Homo sapiens: one gene and its partners. The gene in region 4 interacts genetically with the main gene of each other region. Each region holds a gene or a part of one and is shown on either strand. Other genes may lie near its edges. The genes, in order: REXO2, MED9, NDUFA8, GFI1B, TIMELESS, ASCC3 and TIPIN.

Region 1 (4,261 bases), on a different chromosome or scaffold from region 4:
AGTAGGATGCCTGCTCTTCTACCAGCATAAAACATTTTTCTCAGACTCTTATAAAAGAATAAAACATACTGCAGAACTGATAGCCCCTAAGCTTTTTTTTTTTTTTTAACATCTTTATCCTCATCTGACTTAGTCCATTTACAAATGCTGCATTCATCTGCAGCTGTGTGAATACATACCCAAATTTCCTCCAGGGTACATATCAACCTACGGGTCCATTAAACTGTCAGTATTTCACATTATATCAACAGTCTAAAGGAAACACTCTTCTTCGGCCAAGGGTAAGTTAGACTGGTAAAATAAAGACACTTCTCTTCACTATTGATCTCCAATAAATCCCAAGTAACAGAAAAAAACAACCAAATCTAAAACTCAGGGCTTTATTTATACAAAGTTAAAAAAGTTGTTATGATGAGAAGTACAAAGTCTCATGATTCTCCTACAGTTGATATGTGGGGAGGATAAGCCTGGTACTCCACAAACGCAGTCATTAATCTAGAAATACGTCCTCACCTCTTTTACCTACACAGCAAAACAAACAAAAGTGTTAACTGCAGATTTACGAAATGTATCCAGTGCCAGTAACATATCAATGCTACCCTCTAGGAACTTATTTTAACAAGACTCTCTTTTCCACAAACATCCCTACTTTGTTCCTATTCTGGAGTTTCTGGCTCTGAATACTGCTGACAGTATAAAACAGAATTATTCAGGGTCAGGGATTTCACCCCCTACCAGATGGTGTCACATCCTTATTAAATGTTTCATGAGTGGCTGAAATGCAGCAGGTGTGTTTTGTTTTGCTAAATGTTTCAGTTGGAAGTAGCATGCAAAAACCTTAATCATGCCCAATCTGTCAACAACAGAACACTTTACGGGTGTGCACTAACAGAAATTCTAAAATCTTAATACTGATCTAGAAGAATCACATGTCCTAGTTGAAAAGGCAGAATTGTAAATATGGAGTCAAGTTAAAGTCAAGGTTATGATATAAAGACGCAAACATTGGCACGAGTCACCAAATCTGATGGGAGGACAGCTGGCTGTCCTACTTGTTAGGAGCACCTTACTGAGACAGCCTGAGTTAAACTCTTGGCTCCCCCAGTAAACAGCCACTGGGACCTCAGACAAATTACCCAACATCTCTATGCTCAAGTGTCCTCATCCATCAAATGAGCATTATAACAATAACTAACTTATAGTTGCTGTGAGAACTAAGAACAAAGACATATAAAGCACACAGAAACTGTAGCTGGCATACAGTAAGCGCTCAGTAAACGACAGAATTTATGTTTCTGTAAATTTCTGGCATGGTTAATTAAAAAATAATGTTTAATTTTTAATTTTCACTAGGCTGTGAGATGGATTACTTTGGTTCTAGTACCACCCCTACCATGACCTAGCACATTACCTTAACCCATATAGACCTCAACTTTCTTATTTTTTAAATAAAGAAGCTGGAAAAAATGATGGTTATATTTCCAGTGCCCTTTAAAAAGTATGACTGTATTACATGGCATCACGTACTTCAGCCAAAATGTTGAGATCAGAGTCAGTTATCAGACAGGCCATCTCAATAATCTGGTCCTTCTCAATGTCCAATCCTGTCATCTGCAATTAAAAATAAATATATAACACACACAAAGCCATCATTCTGGCCTCTTTTACCCAAGTTTATTTAACAGGAATTCCCTCAAACATAGTCAGCTTGTAATCCATAGCCGAAACAGAAGAGAAAGAATGCTCCTCGGGCAACTACTGAAGGTACTAAACACGAGTCCTCGTTTATTCAACAAACATTTACCAAGGGCCTGCTATTTGTCAAGCACTGAGATTCTACTCCGGGACAGATGCAAAGTAAGTAAAACTGAGTGCTGACATCACTCAGTTTTGGAAGAGTTGGATAACTACCACCACCACGTCTCTGCAGAGTTTACAAAGTTTTCACATTAATTACACCACTGGACCTTCACAATCTAATGGAAAAACTACTGTTATTATCCTCACTTCATATAAACTGAGGCTCAACGGTGGGAGGAGCCCTTGTTTCGGGCATGGAAAGCCTGAAGGGATAGGAACTGGGTTCTGGTCTCAACTCAGACTCTCACTAACAGCACGACCTTGAATGAGTTGAATCCTTTCTGTGGGCCTCAATGTTCTCACTTATGGAATGAGGGGTAAGGCTGAGTCATCTCCGGAGTCCCGTCTGGCCCTAACAACCTAGGGTCCTTTAAGGATTTAGTTGGGGGAAGCTGGGAACAGAGCCGCTGCCCCCGCCCCCACTCCAGTGACCCAAGCCCAGAGACGCCAGAGCGTTAGGAAAAGTCCACATCTGGGCGGAGGGGTAGGGAGGAGAAGAAGCCACACGGAGGACTCCTCCCTTGTGGAAAGAAGCCCTACAGCGCAGCACGGCGCCCAACACCCGCAGGACTCCTGCCTCCGGACTTGCCCTGCACCGCCCGTGGCCGGCCGCGCTCACCTGCCACACCTGAGACCCAGACCCCCAACGCTCTCCCAGGACGGGCTCGACTCCTCGGTTCCACGAGCGAAACCTCACTCGCCTCCCCAAGCCCCCCGCCGACCTCACTCACCTCCAGGTCCACCCAGACCATCCGCTGAGCCATGCTCTCCCCTGCCGCCATGGCTGCGCCACCTTCGCGGACACCTCGGGCCCCGAACCGTCCGTGACTCCCACCTACACCCCGCAACAGCCTGGAGCCCAGGGAGCCGCCTAGCATCACCCGGGACCAGCAGCCACGGCCCCAGTCTCGCAGCCGGCGCTGGCGCAGGCGCAATAGTCGCTAAACGTCGCAAACCCACGGGGAGGCGCACGAGCTGAAACCACACGTCCCAGCGTACGGTGCGCCGGCTCGCCCTCAACAGCCTGGCTTGGCTGCCGAAGGGAATGATGGGACTTAGAGTCTCACCTGCGGTTGCGACCAGATGCCCCACCCCCGCCACGTGTTTTTCTGGTGTTACTGGACGCGCTTGTTTTTCACTGCTAAGTTTGTTTGCTTCCAGGAGTTATTTCCTGAGTTTTGGTTAGTTGTAACCGCGCAGTTAAAAAAGAACTCTTACTTTGGTTGGTTGGAAAAGAGCTGATTATCTCTGTATGACATTTTTTTCATGTATATCTTTCCTTCTTTGCATTTCTTTTTCTTTTTTTACTTACCTGCCCCTCTATTCCACAAACTGGATATTTTCCTCATTTATTTGGGACCAAGAGGCAGTGTGCTTTTGGGGGCCAGAAGGCCATTAACATTATCATCAAATCATTTAGAAATATTTAAATAAGATCTTGTCTGAGAAATCATTTAGCACGTATCAGGTGTTCAGTCAAAGTTAGTTACCTTCCTTCTTTTTCTTATGGGAAAGCGGTCCAGATCCAGACCCAAAGAGTGGGTTCTTGGACCTCCTGCAAGAAAGAATTCAGGGCGAGTCCATAAAGTGAAAGCAAGTTTATTAAAAGTAAAGAAATAAAAGAATGCCTACTCCATAGGCAGAGCAGGGGCATGGGCGACCGAGTATACTTACACTTATTTCTTGATTATATGCTAAACAAGGGGTGGACAATACCGGGAACTGAGGGTTCTCCGCTTTTAGATCATATAGGGTAACTTCCTAAGGTTGCCATGGCATCTGTGAACTGTCATGGCGCTGGTAGGAGTGTCGTTTAGCATGCTAATGTATTGTAATTACTGTATAATGAGTAGTGAAAATGACTAGAGGTCACTTTGTCATCTTGGTTTTAGTGGGATTTGGCCAGCTTCTTTACAGCACCCTGTTTTGTCAGCAAAGTCTATTGTGACCCGTATCTTATGCTGACTTCCTATCCCTTCCTGGCACTTAGAATACCTAACCTCCTAGGAATGCAGCCCAGTAGGTCTCGGTGTTATTTTACCCAGCCCCTATTCAAGATAGGGTTACTCTTCAAATGCCTCTGACAATTTGGCCAAGGATTATCCCTTATTTCTTATGAAATGCGGCCTGCATTTCAGTTCACCTATTAGGTGTCTGCATGATGACAACTTGCTACTCTGTTCTTAAAAGTTCTCAAAGTTAAATTTCGTCCTCCTATAACAAATCTATGCAGCAAACTAACTTAAAATGAACTAAAACAGTTCTGCCTGCTCTGCCATCTTCTTGGGCTTTGATCCAGGTGTCTTTAATCTCCTGCAATGACTGCTATAATGTCTATCATTTCTAGGAGTCCAGGTGGCCAGCATCAGGACCTTTAGGCCCTGGAGTGTCAAATTTTGTG
Region 2 (3,361 bases), on a different chromosome or scaffold from region 4:
ACTCTGTATCTAGCTCAAGGTTTGTAAACACACCAATCAGCACCCTGTGTTTAGCTCAAGGTTTGTGAATGCACCAATCGACACTCTGTATCTAGCTGCTCTGGTGGGGCCTTGGAGAACCTGTGTGTCCAAACTGTATCTAACTAATCTGATGGGGACGGGGAGAACCTTTGTATCTAGCTCAGGGATTGTAAATGCACCAATCAGCGCCGTGACAAAACAGGCCACTCGGCTCTACCAATCAGCAGGATGTGGGTGGGGCCAGATAAGAGAATAAAAGCAGGCTGCCGGAGCCAGCAGTGGCAACCCGCTTGGGTCCCCTTCCATGCTGTGGAAGCTTTGTTCTTTCACTCTTTGCAATAAATCTTGCCACTGCTCACTCTTTGGGTCCACGCTGCTTTTATGAGCTGTAACACTCACCGCGAAGATCTGCAGCTTCACTCCTGAGCCCAGCGAGACCACGAGCCCACCGGGAGGAACGAACAACTCCAGACATGCTGCCTTAAGAGCTGTAACGCACACCGCGAAGGTCTGCAGCTTCCCTCCTGAGCCAGCGAGACCACGAACCCACCAGAAGGAAGAAACTCCGAACACATCTGAACATCAGAAGGGACAGACTTCAGACGCGCCACCTTAAGAGCTGTAACACTCACTGTGAGGGTCCGTGGCCTCATTCTTGAAGTCAGTGAGACCAAGAACCCACCAATTCCGGACACACAAGTACATAAGGGTATAAGTACAAGATGTTCACTGTCATTCTAGTACAGTACAACCACCCATGAATAGCCAGGGTAATTTCGCTGTCTAATTGTATATGTGTTAACATGGAAGGACATCTGAGGTGCCTTGTTAAGTAGAAAAAGCAAGAATGAGAACTATGGATGGTCACATTTCTGTCAGAACAAATAAGAAAAGTTTGTGTGTTTTGTATGCTGTTGTACATTTCAAAGCCATCTGAAACAGTGGACACCACATGTTAGCAGAGGTTATCTCTGGAACAAGGGGTTAATGAGATTTCCCTTTTCTAAGCCTTGGTTGTCTCATTTTTGAATTTTTTCCCTCAAGTACCTATTACTGTCATTTTTTAAAAAAGTGATCTTAGAAAAATGAAAGCCACTGGAGTTAGTACCGTGCGAGGAGAGCCTGTGGGCAGAGGAATGGACTGGTAAGGGCTGGTCTGAGGGCAAGGCAGCTGGGACAGAGTGGAGTGTGAGGCACAGTGCATGGAAGTTGTGAGGAAGAAGAAATGGGAAACTGAGTCAGATGCCACCAAAAGGTCAAAAGAAATGACTGTCAGATTTGGGAGGAAGTCTGTGTCAGTGGTTCTAGCAGAGTTATTGGCCAGTTTGCATCTGTACTAAAGCATCCATGCTAAAAAGAAGAACAAAGAAAATCAGGGCATGATTCTCAGACACCTGCCTAAAACCCTGTGATGTTTGCCTTTGAGTCTGGTGACACGGATACAACTGTCTGTCAGACGTGGGAAGGATGCTCAGAGGATCACCCCTGGCGGTAGTATTTTTGTCCACTCTTTAAAAAAACCATAGTAGGGGGCTGGGTGCGGTGGCTTACGCCTGTAATCCCAGCACTTTGGGAGGTTGAGGTGGGCGGATCACCTGAGGTCGGGAGTTCGAGACCAGCCTGGCCAACGTGGAGAAACACCATCTCTACTAAAAATACAAAATTAGCCGGGCGTGGTAGCGCATGCCTGTAATCCCAGCTACTCAGGAGGCCGAGGCAGGAGAATCACTTGAACCCGGGAGGCGGAGGTTGCAGTGAGCCAAGATCGCACCATTGCACTCCAGCCTGGGCAACGAGTAAAACTCTGTCTCAAAAAAAAAAAAGAAAAAAAGAAACCACAGTACCACAGTAGTTGGGACCAAAGTGCTCTGACCTTGCCTTGTTTGTACGATGTTCATCCTCCTTGACCTAGTGGCTTTTTTCATTCCTTCTATAGTTGGCCGATGACTAACCTTGAACACAAAGGTAGGCCCACTTAGAGCTTTCTGCTTTTATTCACTCGGTATTTGGTCCTGTCCCTTTTCTTTTGGCTTGAATATTTCACAGTCATCCTGGCTTAGCAGATGCCCACTTCTGAATAGCATGTTCTCTTCACTCCAGGAGTTCCATGCTATTTACCTCCACCAACTAGGGCAGTTGGGCTTGCAGAGGGGCCTCCCTGTGGGCTGCATGGCCCCTTTTGGCTCAGCTGCCCTCCAGGCGGCTTGTCTTACAGCTCCTTTTTTATTATCTGAAGACTGTCTCCTTTCCTGAAAGTTCACCAAAGAACACGCAACCCTTGCTATTTGGGGGTTTTCAGAGATGAGCATCTTAAACATGACCCACTTTCAACTTTCAGAACTAAATTTTCTTTTGGGCCAGGTTATGTTTGCTTCAAGAATGGGATTATCTGTCATCCACATTTCTATTTTAAGTACTTTTTTGTTTGTTTTACCATGTCCTTTGAGACTCATGTGAGTCGGTTTTTTTAAAAACTATATTTTAATTTTAAAACTTCCTTGGGACTTAAATTCGTAACGGTATGTTAACACGCATGCCATCCGAGTAGAAGGATTTCAGAAGTGCAGATGGTTTCTGTCCACATTTGTGGATCAGAGCTGAGACTTCAAAGAATTAAAATAAAAGACGTTCCCTATTTGCTTCCTTCCAAAGGATTTTTAGTTCTCATGAATACCAGTTCATCCTCTCTAGAATCTGCGATAAGGTATACTGTTAATGGTGTCTCTCAGTTGAGGGCATCATTTCCTGGCCTCTCATTTCCTGGAAGAAGTGATTGATTCTCCATACCCTCCCTCTGAGTTTAGAGCTGTTGGTAAATACTGAGCTGGCCATGGTGGCCATCTGATTTGCAAGGTGTGAGACGTAACTGATGGATCGCCAGGAAAGATGGATATTCTGCCTGCGTAAGCAGAGAAATGATGAATAGTAAACATGAATTAGCACCATCTGGGTTGAAATTTCCCACTACGGATGAACATTTATTTGAAAAAATTAATGATCATTGACAGTTTTTCCCTCTTATGCCTCAATGGCTTACTTTCAGAACAGCTTACTGAATTGCCTTTTAGTTTTGGTCTCAACCACTTGTTTTCAAAAGCTCATCCACTTACTAACTTTTAAAAAACGTATAGGAAGCTGAGTGTGGTGGCTCATGCCTGTAATCCCAGCACTTTGGGAGGCCGAGGCAGGTGGATCACCTGAGGTCAGGAGTTCAAGACCAGCCTGGCCAACATGGTGAAACCCTGTCTCTACTAAAAATACAAAAATTATCCGGGCGTGTTGGCATGCGCCTGTAATCCCAGCTACTCAGGAGGCTGAGGCAGGAGAATTGCTTGAACCG
Region 3 (3,500 bases), about 11 Mb from region 4:
ATTAAATTAAATTAAATTAAATTAAAGGATAAATAAAACTCCCAGAGGACTACGGAGTCACAGAAGATGAGGCTGGAAGAGATCACAAAGAGCATCTAGTCCATCTAGTAATAGTCCATCTAGTAATAGTCCATCTAGTAATAACTAATAATAAAGTACTAAAATCTGCAAATTTTTTAAAAATCAGAGCGTATCCAAGGTTGCCACCCCTTTAACTATGCCCACCAGTTTTGCTCAATAGTATTTTAGTGATATTTTCTTGAGAAGATACACAGTGTAGATATAGCCAGCTCAGAGAGAACTGCAAACTGTCCAGGGCCTACAAACAGCTGCTTAAGCAAGAGACCTGTGGTCCCTTTTCTGTACTACCTTTTCTTATACCAATACCACAATGTTTTAATTACTGTCACTGAAGATAACATTTTGTTATCTGGGAGAACCATCCTCCTCATTCTTCCTTTTCAAAACTTTTTTGGCTATTCTTTCAGATGAACACCTTCCCCCAATAATTTGCATTCAAATTGTATTAAATTTAGTTATATGTTAAATTAGGGAACAATGGGCAGTTTTTATAATACTGGGTGCCTGCTCAAACTTCACATCCTCAGAGAGCCTCTCTCTAATCATCTTATATAAGCTATCATCAGTGGTCACTCATGTGGTCTGGTCTTAGCATTCATGTGCTAAGTCTGATCAATTCTAGACATACTTGTTCTTTCCTCTCTGTAAGCACAGTTTCTGTGTTAAGCACCAATTACACTGGGGTCATTAACATCTTTCTCAATAATTTTAAGAGCCCCTGAGTGGTCTGTGTGTGACTAGAACATAAGCTCCCAGAGGGAAGGGATTTTGTTTTCAACAGAGATCCACTACTGTAAAGATATCAATTCTCCCCAAATTAAGCTATGGTAATTAAATATAATGTTGACTACGGTACACACCAAGCACCCAAAATAGTGTCTAGCACAAGTAGCTGTTGAGCACCCACTCTTTGCTAGAAAATGGGGATACAATAATTAGAAAACAGATATGAATACATCAATCACACCTTCTCATCCACAACACAGTATTTCTCTCCATTTATTCATATTCAAGTCATTCTTGTCCTTTGGTTAAAACTAGTTTCCTTCATTATAGGGACCTTGAACATTTCTTGTTTATTCCTCAGTATTTTAGCACTTTTGATACTATCTAAATAGGATAGTTTTTCTATTAGACTTTCAAACTGTTTACTGCTTGCTTGTATACTGTATTTTCTCTCCAGCCATCTTACTGAACTCTTGTTAGTTCTGACACAAAACTCAAGAAGATTAACAGAAAAACTGCCATTTACAAATAAAAACTGTCTCTTTCCCTTCTGCTACTTTATTTTTTTCTTCTTATTCTCATTTCCTATTTTATTGCTTTAACCAACCCCTTCAGGACAATACAGACGAAGAGCAATGACAGCAGACAACCTTCCCTTTTTCTAAAATTAAAAGCAAGTTTGGTATAATATTTGCTGTTGGTATCTGGAATATAGTTGTTTGGATATTCCTTGTTAAGAAAGCTTCTTTCTAATTCTAATTAGTTTTGCTTTACTGTTGTTTTCTATACCAGAAAAGACTAAAATTTTTAGGCTTCGTTTTCATTAATTTATAAATGTAACATAGAGCATTAACAGATTTTGTAAAACTGATCCAATGTATTTCTAGAATAAAATCTAGTCTGTCACAGTGTATTATGCTTTAATACTCTACTGAATTTGATTTGTAAAATTAAAAATTGTTGTGTGAGAACAGTCTGTAATTTTATTTTATTTTATTATTATTATTTTTTTGAGACCGAGTTTCGCTCTTGTCCAGGCTGGAGGGCAGTGGCGCAATCTCGGCTCACCGCAACCTCTGCCTCCCAGGTTCAAGTGATTCTCCTGCCTCAGCCTTCCTGAGTAGCTGGGATTACAGGCATGCGCCACCACACCCGGCTAATTTTGTATTTTTGGTAGAGACGGGGTTCCTCCATGTTGGTCAGGCTGGTCTCAAACTCCTGACCTCAGATGATCCTCCCGCCTCAGCCTCCCAAAGTGCTGGGATTATAGGCGTGGGCCACCACGCCCAGCTGTAATTTTATTTTTTATGCACTTTATGCAGCTAGGTTATTAATAAAAGGCAAGGAAAGATGACAAGAGTAATTAATCTATACACTATAGAAAGGAGAATAAAGTTATGACTATGTCTATTAATAGTGCAACTGTTATAATTATCAAAGATAAAGTTATGACATAAGTGAAATCTGCCATGATGACTCTAATAAATTTATGTTTAAAATCTGTAAAGTTTTCATATTAAAGTTTTTGAAAATAAAAGAATTTATTTAGGTAAACTGGCACACATTTGCTTGTTTTATTACCTATAAACAGCTAGGAGAATAAAAACTAACACTCAAACTTTTTTAAAAGCTTAATATATTTTAATAATTAAGTCAGTTATATTTACTTGTCATATGCCTTAAAAGAGCTTTAACTGGCTGATTCAATTATTCAAAGGCCCAAAACTATACGGCCCAAAAAGACTGACGCATTATTTATTTCCCTACAAATGTGGAAATCTTATCAAAATGAAGGTATACACATGTTGCTGAGCATATAAAACACCATCCCTGTCACAGGAAAATAAAGGAAGACATTGAGTCTGTTTCGTAATTAATGAAAAAGAGGGATGTGCTAGAGACAACACAGTGAGTCAGTGGCAACCCCAGAACTAGAACACAGAGATTGTGACCTCCAACCAGGCTTCTTCCCATTATATCACCATCACTGAGGTGGATGAGCCTGAGATGTCACCATATCCCCTCACCTGCTTCTTCACTGAGACTGATGAATTCCAACAGAAACAACATCCTTTCACAGCTGTTTACCATGAATACCGTCTCAAATTCATTCAGATCTCTTTGTCTCAAACAACACAGAATTTCAACATCCTTCTCATTTATTCTCACAACAGCCTCATTGCACAGCAGGGCTACACAGTCTGCAGGTGTGGAAACTGAGACAAAGTCACCATCTAGAGCCAATCAACCTTCTAGTCCTGTCCTTGTCTCCTTAAACTACGTCTGTACCTCTTTTTATAGTACTTTATTTATACCATGCCTTGAGTTTTCCTAAATTTATGTAAAACAGAGAATAGTACTTAATAGAACTGTTATGAAGATTAAATGAGTTAATATATATAAAAATAATAAGAACAGTGCCTATCACATCGAAAGCACACCATAAATATTAGCTATTTTTATTTTTACTCAAAATTATCAAATGTGTCCAAGGACTTTCCAGTCCAAAGCTTCTGACTGCTTTTTCAATGGGGATGTGTCATAACTCCTAAGCCAATGAGGTCCAAAATGTATTTAACTCGCTCTCCAAACGGGCTCCTTTTTCTGGCTTCACCAGTACTATTGCCACGCTGCAAATCTGACTTTGATTCTTCAACCTTCCCTACCTCCAATATCTAATCCATTGCTAAGTC
Region 4 (3,494 bases):
GTTCAGAGAGGTTAAGTCACTTTTCCAGGATCAGACAGCAAGTAGATATCAGAACCAGCATTCAAACCCAGCTTCGGCCAACTCCCAGCTCTTAACCACTGGGCTATTCAGCCTCTAGATGAGGCAAGGAGGGGCCTCCAGATCCCCTCTCTCACATCCAACTTTGTAGAAGGGAGACTGAGCCACAGAGAGGCAAACGGACCTCCCTGGGACACACAGCAAGCAAGCAGCAGAACTGGCAATCCAGTGCCCCTTACTCTGTGTACCCAGCCTTGGCCAGAGCTGGGCATGGAAGAGACCATGGGACCCCAGGCCTGTCCCTGTCACCGCAGCCCCCAGTGGCCTCACATGCTGCCCCTGCTCCCAGGTCTTCTCCACCCCTCACGGGCTCGAAGTGCATGTGCGACGCTCCCATAGTGGGACCCGGCCCTTCGCCTGTGACATCTGCGGCAAAACCTTCGGCCACGCTGTGAGCCTGGAGCAGCACACGCACGTCCACTCCCAGGTGGGCACCTGGCCCAGCGCAGGACTCCCAGCCCCACTCCTTCTCTGTGCTTCCCCAGGGAGCCTGGGGGCTGTGGCTGGGTCCCTCCCCCTGCCCCTGGGGGTGACACAGATTGGGAGGGGTCCCCTAGTACCCACCTCCCTGGGTCTGGGTCTCCAACACCTGCCCTTAACAAACTTCAGACTCTTAACTAAACCACCGTGCAGACCACAACCATCCCTGCCTCAAGGAACTCACTCTAGGTTAATGGTCATGAAATGTGAACCCCTAAAGAACCTCTGAGATCAGTCAGTCCATCAGTCAATCAACGAACATTTATTGAGGTTTATTTTGAGCGGGATACCGTGAAGATTACAAGGAAAAATCCCACAGGAGACCAATGAGACTCCAAGCCCCAGTTTCACCTCAGAGGCAGAGATGAGGGGTCCCCCGGTCCTGCTCCTCCAGGCCGCCCCAATGGAGTGTCCTGTTCCGCAGGGGATCCCGGCCGGGTCCAGTCCTGAGCCTGCACCTGACCCCCCGGGGCCTCATTTCCTCCGGCAGGAGCGCAGCTTCGAGTGCCGCATGTGCGGCAAGGCCTTCAAGCGCTCGTCCACGCTGTCCACCCACCTGCTCATCCACTCAGACACGCGGCCCTACCCCTGCCAGTTCTGCGGCAAGCGTTTCCACCAGAAGTCCGACATGAAGAAGCACACCTACATCCACACAGGTGAGTGAGTCTCACCTGCCTGTGCCCCCTGGGCAGAGCACCCCCACCTTTCCCTGAGAGATGCATCAGAGGCCCCCAGCGTGAGGCTGGGGGCGGGGTCTAGTTACAAAGTCAAAGGCCACTGCTGATGGAGGGCTGGGCACCTGTGCTACTTAAGTGCACTTAATGCATGGAAAAAAATACAGGGAGGAAACAGCAAAATCTCAACACTGTTGATCTCATGGCAGACATGAGACTAGCAGGCGAACTGCTCATTCATTTGTTCACTCATTCACTCACTCACTTGCTCATTCATTTGTTCACTCATTTGCTCATTTATTCACACATTCGCTCACTCATTTGCTCATTCATTTGTTCACTCATTCATTCATTTGCTCATTCATTTGTTCACTCATTCATTTGCTCATTCATTTGTTCAGTCATTCATTCATTTGTTCACTCATTTGCTCATTCATTTGTTCACTCATTCATTCATTTGTTCACTCATTTGCTCATTCATTTGTTCACTCATTCATTCATTTGTTGATTCATTTGTTCACTCATTCACTCATTTGCTCATTTATTCACACATTCGCTCACTCATTTGCTCATTCATTTGTTCACTCATTCATTTGCTTATTCATTCCTTCACTCATTCATTCACTTGCTTATTCATTGCCTCCTTGCTATTAGCTGAGTGCCTCTTTTGTGCCAGGTATACCAGGCTTGGAGATGTATTGATAAACAAGATGACTCGGCAGCTGCCCCTAACCACCCTATAATCCAGTAGGGGTGGAGGAGGGTCCAAGTTGTATCTTTGCTTCTCTCTCTTTTCTAATTATTTTCTAAAGTGAATGTGAGTTGGCCATGAGAGAAAACACAGGAAGGTATTGGAAAATGAACCCGGGGGCAGGGCAGGGGAGCAGCAGGCCTGGTGAGGAGGCCCTGACCCCGCCCTTGCTGTGCTGCGCTGCCCTCCCTGCAGGTGAGAAGCCGCACAAGTGCCAGGTGTGCGGAAAGGCCTTCAGCCAGAGCTCCAACCTCATCACCCACAGCCGCAAGCACACAGGCTTCAAGCCCTTCAGCTGTGAGCTGTGCACCAAAGGCTTCCAGCGCAAGGTGGACCTGCGGCGGCACCGCGAGAGCCAGCACAATCTCAAGTGAGGCTGCGCCGGCTCCCAGCTCCTGGCCAGCCTGCCCTGCGGTCCTGTCACCTGGAGGCCAGCCTCACATGCCCAAATCTCCAGTCTCCTGGAGGTGGGACTGGACAGGAGTCTACCAGCTTGTTTTGAGACTCATGAAATTGCTGTGTGACCTTGGGCAAGTCACTTACCCTGTCTGGATCAACATTTCTCCTGCTGCCAAGTGTGGGAGCCTGGCTGGGTCTTTCTCAGCAGAAGTTGTTTCCAGGTGTGCTCAAGTGCCTTCCTCTAGCAGAGCACAGAAAGCTAGAATACCCCCAGGGAGACAGGGATGCCAAGAGTAGACCAGAGCTGGGACCCACAGACAGAACCTCCACCTGCCTGCTGCCCACTGAGCTGGGACCTGGTCACCTTGGATTTTAGCCGGCCTCTTTCTGGCTATAACAGGCAGAGTCGGAGCTGCCTCCCACCCCAGTCAGAAGCCTGGCACCCCCTCTGCTTCGGCCAGATGTGCTGGCTGACTCCGACTTCCGACCAGCACTCAGCTGGCCTCTGGGGATTCTAGCTCCACAACCAGGCCGTGAGGCTGGAGAAACTGGCAGTTATTGCTGTCAAAAGCCTGTTCTCTCAACTGCTGTCAATAAAATTAAAGATACAGATTTGCTGCCATGTGACCAGCATTTATTAAGTGCCTATGAGGTCCAGGGTACTGCACGAGGCTTTGGGGAGTGATGCGGGGAGGCTTGAGGAGCAGAGAAAGCCATGGAGGTGCTCATAGGCAAGTTGTGGAGAAGTGTACTCAGCCCCCACGTGCACAGACCCGCTGACGAGCCAGGAGCAAGCAGAAGGGGCCCGTGCGACAAGACCACAGGGGTGGGCAAGGCTAGTGCAGCTGGGGCGGTATCCGTTTCCTGTGGCTGCTGTGACAAATGACCACAAACTTAGTGGCTTAAAACAACACACATTTATTCTCTTAAATTCTAGAGGCCAGAAACTCAAAATGAGTCTCATGGGGCTAACATCAAGGTGTTAGCAGGACTGCATTCCTGCAGCAGGCTCCCAGGAGAGTCTGTTTTCCTGTCTCTCACCTTCCCAAGGCCGTCTGTGCCTCTGATCTTGGCCCCTTCCTCTGCCTTCAAAGCACATAACTTGGATCTCT
Region 5 (3,500 bases), on a different chromosome or scaffold from region 4:
ATGATGCTGACTGACCGCAAGGAAGCTGCCTCCTGGGCACGCCGGTGAGTGGGATGGTTACTGGAGATACAGTGAGCTAGGGATCTGAATGCTTGAATTCTGGCTGGTGCTTTTTTCCTGATTCAGGGTTCAGGTGATCAGTCTGGGGAGCAAGGACTGGCTGGGAAATTTAGTTTGGGTGGCACATTTTTTTTTTTCGCTGTGGGAAGTTGCTGTTTCCATGGGCCATTGCCCTAAGCTGTCCTCCATTTCACCGTTTCCCGTCAACTCTCAGGATGCACTTGGCTCTGAAGGCCTATCAGGAGCTGCTGGCAACAGTGAATGAGATGGACATATCTCCAGATGAGGCTGTGAGGGAGAGCAGCCGCATCATCAAGAGTGAGGCCCTGGCCTGGTCCCCGATCCCAGCCTGTCCCATCTCGTGATGAGAATCTCATTCTTCCCAGTCCCAGCTTCATCCATCTCTCCTTTTCAAGCTTTCCAGAATAGCCCTTCCATCCCTTTCTCTTCCCCATTCCTAGACAATATTTTCTATGTGATGGAGTACCGAGAACTATTCCTGGCACTTTTTCGAAAGTTTGATGAGAGATGCCAGCCCCGCTCTTTCCTTCGTGACCTGGTGGAGACCACCCACCTCTTCCTCAAAATGTTGGAGCGATTCTGTCGGAGCCGTGGGAACCTGGTGGTGCAGGTACTGGGCAGCCCCACAATGTAGAAAGAGCTGTAAGGGAGAGTCAAGGAAGGGGGGCTCTTTCTTCTCACAGTTTGTACAGCTTAAGTTCATCTGTTAAACGTGCTCTGAACTACGACAGCAAGAGGTTTGTGGGTGTTGGCCAGTGTGAGTCTACTACAGTTTCCTTCTCCCATTAGAATAATCTCTGATCTGCCATAAATATTTTAGTTCAGTCAGGAAACATTTATTGAACACCTACCACATGCCAAGTACAAAAACCCTGGGGATTCATAATTTTAGAGTCTAATAATTATGCTATAGCATTTTCTGGTTATACCTTGAAAGCATTGTGGTGAGGTGGAAAGAGCCTTAAATTGCGGCCAGGCATGGTGGCGCACACCTGTAATCCCCGCGCTTGAGGAGGCCAAGGTGGGCAGATTACTTGAGGTCAGGGGTTCAAGACCAGCCTGGCCAACATGGTGAAACCCCGTCTCTACTAAAAATACAAAAATTAGCCAGGCGTGTTGATGCACACCTGTAATCCCAGCTACTCAGAAGGCTGAGACAGAATCGCTTGAATCCAGGAGGTGGAGATTGCAGTGAGCCAAGATCATGTCACTGCACTCCAGACTGGGTGACACAGTGAGACTCTGTCTCAACAGCAACACAAAGAGAGCCTTAAATTGAACTTTAGAAAGTCTGGAATCTAGTCCTGTATTGGTTATTATTGGAATAAGCTCAAGCTGGTCGTGTCGGTCTCCAGATCCATAAAGTTGGGATTGTGACAGTTGTCCATGAACCCAAAGTGGAATCAGTGAAAAGCCTAGGACAGGCTGGGCACAGTGGCTCATGCCTGTAATCCCAGCACTTTGGGAGGCCACAGTGGGTGGATCATTTGAGGCCAGGAGTTTGAGACCAGCCTGGGCAACATGACAAAACTCCTTCTCTACTAAAAATACAAAAATTAGCTGGGTGTGATGGCACGCACCTGTAGTCCCAGCTATTTGGGAAGCTGAGGCACGAGAATTGCTTGAACCCATGAGGCAGAGGTTGCAGTAGGCCAAGATCATGCCACTGCACTCCAGTCTGGGCCACAGAGCAAGACTCTGTCTCAACAAAAAACAAAAACAATTCACCAGCATGGTGGCACATACCTGTAGTCCCAGCTGCTCAGGAGGCTGAAGCACGAGGATCACTGGAACTTAGGAGTTTGAGGATGCAGTGAGCTGTGATTGAGACATTGCACTCCAGTCTGGGTGAGACCAAGACCCTATCTCTGAAAAATAAAATTATTGGTTCACATTAAAATAAAAAAAACCCTGGGACAAAATGCAAACTCCAAGGAATTTGTATCCTGGAAACACAGAGACTTTGCTTTGTATAAACAGATTTTGGGCCAGGCGCGGTGGCTCATGCCTGTAATCCCAGCACTTTGGGAGGCTGAGGCGGGCAGATCACTTGAGGTCAGGAGTTCACGACCAGCCTGGCCAACATGGTGAAACCCTGTCTCTACTAAAAATACAAAAATTAGCCAGGCATGGTCATGCGCACCTGTAATCCCAGCTTCTTGGGAGGCTGAAGTGGGAGAATCACTTGAACCCGGGAGGCGGAGGTTGCAGTGAGCCAAGATCATGCCATTGCACTCCAGCCTGGGCAACAGAGCAAGACTCCGTCTCAAAAAACAAACAAACAAACAAAAATTAGCCTGGCGTGGTGGCACACACCTGTAATCCCAGGTACTTGGGAGGCTGAGGCAGGAGAATCGCTTGAACCCAGGTGGCAGAGGTTGCAGTGAGCCGAGATCACGCCATTGCACTCCAGCCTGGGCAACAAGAGTGAAATTCTGTCTTAAAAAAAAAAAAAAAAAAGATTTTGTACCAGAACCTTCCTATAACTCTAGTTGCTACAGCTTAAAATTCTGTCATAACTGGACTTGAAAGATGCAGTAGTACCAACGAGACTTTGCTAAAGGGTATTTTTGCACTCAGAGCTCTGTGGTATTATCTGTAATACTAGGTACTATCATTTATTGAGCATTTACTGTGTGTCAGACACTGTGCTGACGTTTTCATGTAATCCTCACAGTAGCGCATGTGCCCAAAGTGGTTAAGCAACTTGTCCAAAGTCTTGTTAGTAATACTAATTCAATACTCAAATCCAGATCTGCTGGACTCCATGCTCCTAAGTTTTGGTGTGTTTGATTGTAAGTTCTTTAATGGAGCATGACCTTCAGGGGCCTCTCAGTTCATCCTGTTTGACTTTTCAGTACCCACACCAAAGACTGGTTCACAGCCCTGACTTGGGAGAAGCAGGATTTGGGTATTGACTCACTCTCCTGCTTTTCTTTTTTTTAATTATTTATTTATTTATTTATTTTTTTAAGCAGGGTCTCGCTCTGTTACCTAAGCTGGAGTGCAGTGGCTGAATCTCAGCTCACTGCAACCTCTCCTTCCCGTGCCCAAGCGATTCTTCTGCCTCGGCCTCCCAAGTAGCTGGGACTACAGGTACACACCACCATGCCTGGCTAATTTTTGTATTTTTTGTAGACACAGGGTCTCGCTGTGTTGCCCAGGCTGGTCTTGAACTCCTGACCTCAAGCGATCCACCTGCCTAGGCTTCCCAAAGTGTTGGGACTACAGGTGTGAGCCACTGCGCCTGGCTGTCCTACTTTTCAGGAGAAAAAATTAGAGGCTTTATTTACATAGTGCTTTGCATTTTATGAAGCTTTTCCATGTGTCTTATTTGATCCTCATAGCATCTGCTTATTCTGTAGACCTCTTGAGATAGCACTGCTTTTGGCAAACCTCTGAACTCAGGAAATGGGTCA
Region 6 (3,500 bases), on a different chromosome or scaffold from region 4:
TCAGTATGATATAGAAATAGGCATAGAGTGGGGTAGAACGTGGTTTTTGGTGAAGAAATTCTTTTTGGCTGGAGCAGGAAATATATAATAGCCAATAAGACTGGAAAATAAAATGCTGGGGTCAGCTTCTGGCAGTGTAGGAGCTTGGATCAAGCTATAGTAAGCTGTGGAAGATTTGTGAATAATGATACTGGAGTCATGTTTCCTTCTTTTTTTTTTTTTTTTTTTTTTGATAGAGTCTCAATTCTGTCACCCAGGCTGGAGTACAGCGATGCTATCTCTGCTCACTGCAACCTCCGCCTCCTAGGTTCAAGCGGTCCTCCTGCCTCAGCCTCTCGAGTAGCTGGGATTACAGGTGTGTGGCACCACACCCAGCTAATTTTTGTATTTTTAGTAAAGACGGGATTTCACCATGTTGGCCAGGCTGTTCTCGAACTGCTGACCTCAGGTGATCCACCCACCTCGGCCTCCCAAAGTGCTGGGATTACAGGCGGGAGCAACTGCAGAGTCATGTTTTTTAGAAAGATACCAGTATTCATTACATTATTAACTTTAACAGTATTTAGGTAAGTCACATAGCTTTTGGGGCCTTTTGAAGATTTAAATTCTTCTTTTCTTCTCTAAGAATATTCTTTGAAACCCATGTCAGAAATACAGATTCTTTTTTTTATTTGAGAAAATTGGATATGAGAAAATGCCTTAAATAAATTAGAGGCTGATTCTTCTTATATTTACTTCTAGCCTCTTTTAAACAGGAGCTTTCTTTTTTATTTTATAATATGACTAACTTTATCTTCAGCTTAATAAATATCCTTGATGGTATTAAATGTTTTTGAATGAGAACTATAGAAGTATTTCTTGCCATCTCAGGTTTATGGTACAAATTGGAAAGAAAATTATAGATATTTGAGGTTTCCTTGAAGCTCCAAAAGTCTATAATTCAGATTGTTTTCTGTACCTTACTTTGGTTTATTTAACTAGCTCATCAAATCAATCTTTAAAATTAGTTTTAAAGTGAGTTTTAGCTAGTGTCTCAAGTTGTTTTTAGAAAGAAGCTGTAAGGATTGTTACTAGGTAGTTTCTGCACTTAGATACATAATAATTACTGATAATGATTTATTTACCTAAAATAGTTCTTTGGGAAATAAATAGTTCTTCAGGAATGGGTTGGTTCCTGCTCCTTAAATTGGCTATCTGTCTTTATTGTTATGTTTTTGTTGTTTTTTTTACAAGGTCTCACACTGTTGCCCAGGCTGAGTACAGTGACACAATCATGGCTCGCTGCAGCCCCAACCTTCCAGGCTCAAGCAATCCTTCCACCTCAGCCTCCTGAGTAGCTGGGACTACAGGTGCACACCACCATACCTGGCTAATTTTTAAAAATTTTTGTAGAGATGGTTCTCACCATATTGCCCAGGCTGGTCTTGAACTCCTAGACTCAAGTGATCTTCCTGCCTTGACCTTCCAGAGTGTGGGGATTATATGGAGCCATTACACCTGGTCTATTGCTATGATTTGACTGTTAGATTTACTCAGGAGAATATTTGTGGTAATTTTTTGGAAGATCGTAACTTGAACCATGATTCAATTGAGCTAATACTGTTTCTTTTGTCTTTGAATAGTTGGAACTGATAATGGGAGAGAAGCAATTGAAAGTGGGGCTGCATTTCTCTTCATGACATTTCACTTGAAGGACTCTGTTGGTCACAAGGAAACAAAGGCTATCAAACAGATGTTTGGCCCCTTTCCTTCATCATCTGCCACTGCAGCTTGTAATGCTACTAATCGAATTATTTCTCATTTTAGTCAAGATGATCTTACTGCTCTTGTGCAGATGACAGAAAAAGAACATGGCGATAGGGTTTTTTTTGGTAAAAATTTAGCATTTTCATTTGACATGCATGATTTGGACCACTTTGACGAACTGCCAATAAATGGTGAAACTCAGAAAACTATAAGCCTAGATTATAAGAAGTTTCTGAATGAACATCTCCAGGAGGCTTGCACCCCAGAACTCAAGCCTGTGGAAAAAACAAATGGCTCCTTTTTGTGGTGTGAAGTTGAAAAGTACCTAAATTCAACTTTGAAGGAAATGACTGAAGTGCCAAGAGTAGAAGATCTTTGCTGTACTTTATATGATATGCTTGCTTCTATTAAAAGTGGTGATGAACTTCAGGATGAGGTATAGTTGAAATGATTTATTTTTTTATATTAATGTGAACTATCCTAATGAAATAGTGTTTTTTAAACATGGGTGGTTAGCAAAGAAAGTTCTTTAATGTTCTGTATAGTAGTTGAATCTATAGCCAAATGGTTTCACATAGCAGGCCTGTATATACGTTCCTAATGGATAGTTACAGGAGGTCTGAAAGTGTAATGAGTGTAGCAGAGGAGTAAGCAGACAATAGTTGGGTGTCCACATGCTCTGGTTACTGGGACAGTGCTGGTTTGATGTCAACTTAATTTTAATACTGGACAAATTGAATGAGTAATATATTTCATGAAAGATTAAGAGGGATGGCCTACTGTTGTAGAAAGGACAGGCTTTGAAATCAGTTTGTTCTTCCCTTTCCACTTACTGGTTGTGACACTTTAGGTAACTTAATCTCTCAGAAGCTCAGTTTTCTTGTTGGGCTATCTCAAGGAGACACCAATATCAAGATAGATAATTGTTATAAGGATTGAATGTGATATATGCAAAATGGTAAGTAACATGTTAAATAATCATTATGTGGTAGCTGTGATTATTTTTGTCGTTATTATTGGAATTAAGAATTTTTAAATCACATTGAGTATTGGAAATACAGAAAAAATACTAGCTGTATTTTTCAGAGAAAAATTAATTTAGAGAATTAGCTAAGTAGGTATTGGAGGACTTAACCCATAGGTGTTATGCCAACTAACATTAGTTTGGAAGTAAGATATTATATCATTAATTCTGTGATCAGTCTTTTTACTGTGAATGTTTTACACTTGGTTTAATTTTTATCAGATCTGTTCTCACTATTAAATTTTCTCTAACATTCTGAACATAATATTGTTTTAAAAATTGTGATTTACGAAGAAAATTTTACTAATATTTGCTCATCATAATTGAATACATAGTAGTTATCCAATTATGATTATAATAAACTGAAATTTATAAATATCTAATTAATGGATATTTTATTTTCTTAGTAAGCCATAAAACCATTACTTTCACTTCTGAATATCTATAGTAAGTTTGTATTTCTTAGTCTTTCACCACAATTTTAAAGTATGTAACTGAATCTGATTGTTGGAAGGGGAGTATTTGTGCTAGATTTTTTTCATAATAGCTTCATTTGTCATATATTTATTGTATGCTTATTGTATTGCTAGGTACAGTGCTATTTACTGAACATAAAAGGATGAATAAGATAGCAAACTTGTTCTCAGAATTAATTGTCTAGCAGGAGGAGACATGTCAACAAGTAACTGTACTGAAATATCATAGGTATTATAATACTACATGCAAAGAA
Region 7 (4,141 bases), on a different chromosome or scaffold from region 4:
AGAGGCAGACGGACCATGAGGTCAGGAGTTCGAGACCAGCCTGGCCAACACAGTGAAACCCCGTCTCTACTAAAAATATAAAAAAAATTTAGCCAGGTGTTGTGGCACGCACCTGTAGTCCCAGCTACTCAGGAGGCTGAGGCTTTCCTCCCTTTCTGGGCACTCCTCCTGGATTTTCTTTGCAGGTTTATCTTCTACCCCGGCCATTAAGTATCCAAGACTCCATCCTAGGGCTTCTTCATTCATTTATGCACAGAGCTTTAATAAGTACTGATTTATAGATGACTCCCTGATTTTTATCTCTACCCTAGGCCTTGACTCTGCGATCCAGATCACTACTTCCCATTTTACACTTCCTAAACGCCTGAAAGGCACCTGTAACTCAGCAGGTACAAAACCAAACTTCTAAATTTTCCTAACTCATTAAATGACATCTATCCAGCTATGCAATTCAGAAACCTACAAGTCATCTTTAGCAATTCCTTCCCCTATCCCACAGATCCTGCCCATCTTATTTCCTAAATATCCCTTGAATCTGTCTATTTCTCCTTATCTCTATAACCACTTCCCAACATTTCTTGCTTGCATTACTCCACTACTCTCATCCACTCGTCTCCTTCAATTGTCCCTATTACATCTAGACTGAATCTGAAAATATAAAGCTGATCACCTCACTTGGATTAAGTATTTCAATGGTTTCTGATTGCTCTTAAGATAAAGACAAAACTTCAAGGCCCTGTGTGATCCAGCCTCTTACTACCTCACCAGTCTCACTTCACACTACTCTATGCTTTTTCTTTCCTTGAAAGAGCTATATCCCTCAGGCCACTGGCTCTTTACAAATACTATTTCCTGTCTTGAAAAAGCTATTCCTTGACTCCTAATATCTTCCAGATCTCAACTATCACCTTTTCAAAAGTTTACCTCAATTTCTCTAAATCCTTCTTTAGTAAGCATTCATAGTGTCAAGTACAAGTGTCATGGCACTTATCCAGTTTCAATATCAGGTTTTATTTATACAGTTATTTATTGTTCGTCTCCCAAACTAGACTGTAGCTCAAAAAGGGCAACGAGGTTAAGTCTCTCTGTGTTACACAGCTGGAACCCCAATGCTGTTACACAGCAAGTGCTCAATATATATCTTTTTTTTTTTTTTTTTTTTTTGAGAAGGAGTCTCGGGCTCTGTCACCCAGGCTGGAGTGCAGTGGCGCGATCTCTGCTCACTGCAAGCTCCGCCTCCCGGGTTCTCGCCATTCTCCTGCCTCAGCCTCCCGAATAGCTGGGACTACAGGCGCCTGCCACCACGCCCGGCTAATTTTTTGTATTTTTCATAGAGACGGTGTTTCACCGTGTTAGCCAGGATGGTCTCGATCTCCTGACCTCGTGATCCGCCCGCCTCGGCCTCCTAAAATGCTGGGATTACAGGCGTGAGCCATCGCGCCCGGCCCCAGGTGCTCAATATATATTTGATGAATGATGGAATGCAAAAAAAAATTCCAGTTTCCCCAAATTGGAGTTAGACGATCTTTAAAATCTCACTAATTCTAAATTTCGGTTACCATAAATATAAAAGCAAAGCATCGGCTGGGCGCGGTGGCTCACGCCGGTAATCCCAGCACTATGGGAGGCAGAGGCGGACGGATCATGAGGTCAGGAGTTCGAGACCAGCCTGGCCAACACAGTGAAACCCCATCTCTACTAAAAATACAAAAAAAATTAGCGGGGCGTGGTGGCACACGCCTGTAGTCCCAGCTACTCGGGAGGCTGAGGCAGGAGAATCATTTGAACCCAGGAGGCGGAGCTTGCAGTGAGCCGAGACCGCGCCACTGCACTCCAGCCTGAGCGAAAGAGCGAGACTCCGTTTCAAAACAAAAACAAAGCATCAATTCCTGATCATGACCCACTGTAACTTCAAGCAAGCTACAAGAATCTATACTAGGGTTCAGACCTTTGAGGCTGACAGCGAGCTTTGAGTTTGATGACAGTACCTAAAATATATTAAGTGTACTCAGGAACTGGCCAAGCATGGGGTGGGGCTTGTCAGGAAACTGGTATTTCTTTCTTCTATTTGTAGTGAATAAGATGCTCAATAGACGACTTTTACTCCTCGTCAATGGTCGCATAACTGTCTCTTTTTAGACACTTATGAAATTGTCTGAACTTCCTCCTCTACTTCTCCAACTCCCAGAAGAGTGAAGGTAACAAATGTTATGTCCAAACCACGGTTTGTTCCCAGACCCTGGTTTCCAATGCCCACCTCTTTTCCAAGAAGTCCAAAGAGACGCCCCTCATCGCAAAGGAAGTGCTACCGTGCTGCCTCGATGTCCCCCTTGGGTGCCATCCCTGAAACATCGAACCTCCCATACCTCTTCTCCAGCCGTCCCCCTCATCCTCGTTCCCCGCCTACCCTCTCTTCAACTTCATTCATTCATCCAACATTCGCTGGGGGATTTCTACATTGACACGCCCCGGACAGAAGCCTGGGGTAAAGATGATCAGGAACACGTTCCCTCCCGCTAAGCGGCTTGGCAGAGTAAGAGGCATCCCAAAACCTAAGCAACCGGGACACGCGCCCACCTCCCCGCCTCTCCAGGCCGGGTCAGGTCGACCCCCCAACCTCCTGACCCCCTTCCTGCGACAATTAGGCTTTCCCGCTAGTCTGTCTGGCTCCCTGGCTCTTCCATCTGGCTCCCTGGCTAGTCCGACTCCCCTCTCCCCGCAAGAACTTCATTGGCCCGCCAGCCAGCTCTCACCTCACGCAGAAAACACGGGACACAGCGCGGACCTCGGCGTGCAGACTAAGCGCGCTTCTCGCGATACTCGGGAACTCCTGGGGCGAGAAGGGCCCGCAGCGTTTGGCGCCAAATCCGTGCGGGGGGCTGGGCGGAGCCTGCAAAACCCGCCTCTCAGGTTCCGCCCAGCACGCCGGTCCCGCCTTCGGTCCCACAATTTCCGCCCTACTGAATTCTTCAGAGGAACTCAGTTAAGCCTCCTTATTTGCATAAAGTTAATACTTGTTATTCTGGGGTTTTTCTTTTTTTTTTTTCTTGAGACTAAGTCTCGCTCTATCACTCAGGCTGGAGAGCAGTGATTCGATCTCGGCTGACTACAGTCTCTACCTCCCGGGCTGAAACGATCCTCCCACCTCAGCCTCCCTTCCCCGACTAACACCACCACACCGAATTTTTGTTTTAATGGGTTTTTGTTTGTTTGTTTGTTTGTTTTGCAAAGACGGGGATTAGTTGCCCAGGCTGGTGTCGAACTCCTTAGCTCAAGCGATCTTCCCACCTCAGCTTCCCAAAGTGCTGGGATTACAGGCGTGAGCCACTGTGCCCGGCACTTTAAACCTTGGAAATAGGTCTCGGTTTTTGGAAAACTGAGTTGTGGGAGGAGGAAAAAGGACAGAGGCAAGCAATAGTGAATAAGAAATTACCGCTTCTTCAGAGTTCATAGCAGAATGCTTCGAACTCAGAGTTTTATGAATTGTTTATTGAATAATAAGCTGAGAAAAGAGGTGGTAAAGAGAGGAAAAATAGGGCTGAACATAGACACTGGCCAGGTGCGGTGTGGCTCGCCTGTAATCCCAGCACTTTGGGAGGCCCAGGCAGGCGAATGGCTTGAGCCCAGAAGTTGAAGGCGGCAGTGACTAGGATCGCACTGCTGGCGATCCAGCTGGAGATCCAGTCTGGGTGACAGTGAGATCTTGTCGCAAAAAAAAAAAAAAAAAAAAAAAAAAAAGCGAGAGAGTGTGAATGTAAACAAAAAAAAATGTCAAAAATATGTTACTTGGGGCCGGGTGCAGTGGCTCACGCCTGTAATCCCAGCACTTTGGGAGGCCGAGGCGGGCAGATCACGAGGTCAGGAATTCGAGACCAGCCTAGCCAACGTGGTGAAACCCCATCTCTACTAAAAATACAAAAATTAGCCGGGCGTGGTGGCGCGCACCTGTAATTCCAGCTACTTAGGAGGCTGAGGCAGGAGTATCACTTGAACCTGGGAGGCAGAGGTTGCAGTGAGCTGAGATCATGCCATTGCACTCCGGCCTGGGCGACGGAGCAAGACTCTGTCTCAAAAAAAAAAAAAGTTATTTGGTCAGACTTGGTGGCTCATGCCTGTAATCTTAGCACTTTGAGAGGCTGAC

The links.
Region 1: changes in GFI1B (region 4) and REXO2 together harm fitness more than expected from each alone (negative genetic interaction), as found in Homo sapiens cells (one large-scale study listed by BioGRID).
Region 2: changes in GFI1B (region 4) and MED9 together harm fitness more than expected from each alone (negative genetic interaction), as found in Homo sapiens cells (one large-scale study listed by BioGRID).
Region 3: changes in GFI1B (region 4) and NDUFA8 together harm fitness more than expected from each alone (negative genetic interaction), as found in Homo sapiens cells (one large-scale study listed by BioGRID).
Region 5: changes in GFI1B (region 4) and TIMELESS together harm fitness more than expected from each alone (negative genetic interaction), as found in Homo sapiens cells (one large-scale study listed by BioGRID).
Region 6: changes in GFI1B (region 4) and ASCC3 together harm fitness more than expected from each alone (negative genetic interaction), as found in Homo sapiens cells (one large-scale study listed by BioGRID).
Region 7: changes in GFI1B (region 4) and TIPIN together harm fitness more than expected from each alone (negative genetic interaction), as found in Homo sapiens cells (one large-scale study listed by BioGRID).

Annotation. Positions count from the first base shown.
Region 1 is NC_000011.10:114,438,006-114,442,266, reverse strand, and holds the start of REXO2 (oligoribonuclease, mitochondrial precursor), read right to left. Parts: upstream 2,801-4,261; 5' UTR 2,739-2,800; coding exon 2,592-2,738; intron 1,612-2,591; coding exon 1,528-1,611; intron 1-1,527. UniProt on the Homo sapiens protein: 3'-to-5'exoribonuclease that preferentially degrades DNA and RNA oligonucleotides composed of only two nucleotides. Binds and degrades longer oligonucleotides with a lower affinity.
Region 2 is NC_000017.11:17,487,000-17,490,360, forward strand, and holds part of MED9 (mediator of RNA polymerase II transcription subunit 9), read left to right. Parts: intron 1-3,361.
Region 3 is NC_000009.12:122,153,280-122,156,779, forward strand, and holds part of NDUFA8 (NADH dehydrogenase [ubiquinone] 1 alpha subcomplex subunit 8), read right to left. Parts: intron 1-3,500. UniProt on the Homo sapiens protein: Accessory subunit of the mitochondrial membrane respiratory chain NADH dehydrogenase (Complex I), that is believed not to be involved in catalysis. Complex I functions in the transfer of electrons from NADH to the respiratory chain.
Region 4 is NC_000009.12:132,988,694-132,992,187, forward strand, and holds the end of GFI1B (zinc finger protein Gfi-1b), read left to right. Parts: intron 1-367; coding exon 368-505; intron 506-982; coding exon of another isoform or gene 983-1,048; coding exon 1,049-1,214; intron 1,215-2,044; coding exon of another isoform or gene 2,045-2,064; exon of another isoform or gene 2,065-2,146; intron 2,147-2,178; coding exon 2,179-2,357; 3' UTR 2,358-2,994; downstream 2,995-3,494. UniProt on the Homo sapiens protein: Essential proto-oncogenic transcriptional regulator necessary for development and differentiation of erythroid and megakaryocytic lineages.
Region 5 is NC_000012.12:56,425,427-56,428,926, reverse strand, and holds part of TIMELESS (protein timeless homolog), read left to right. Parts: coding exon 1-44; intron 45-274; coding exon 275-378; intron 379-521; coding exon 522-691; intron 692-3,500. UniProt on the Homo sapiens protein: Plays an important role in the control of DNA replication, maintenance of replication fork stability, maintenance of genome stability throughout normal DNA replication, DNA repair and in the regulation of the circadian clock.
Region 6 is NC_000006.12:100,846,830-100,850,329, reverse strand, and holds part of ASCC3 (activating signal cointegrator 1 complex subunit 3), read left to right. Parts: intron 1-1,622; coding exon 1,623-2,182; intron 2,183-3,500. UniProt on the Homo sapiens protein: ATPase involved both in DNA repair and rescue of stalled ribosomes. 3'-5' DNA helicase involved in repair of alkylated DNA: promotes DNA unwinding to generate single-stranded substrate needed for ALKBH3, enabling ALKBH3 to process alkylated N3-methylcytosine (3mC) within double-stranded regions.
Region 7 is NC_000015.10:66,353,886-66,358,026, forward strand, and holds the start of TIPIN (TIMELESS-interacting protein), read right to left. Parts: upstream 2,801-4,141; 5' UTR 2,754-2,800; exon of another isoform or gene 2,258-2,753; intron 237-2,257; exon of another isoform or gene 113-236; intron 1-112.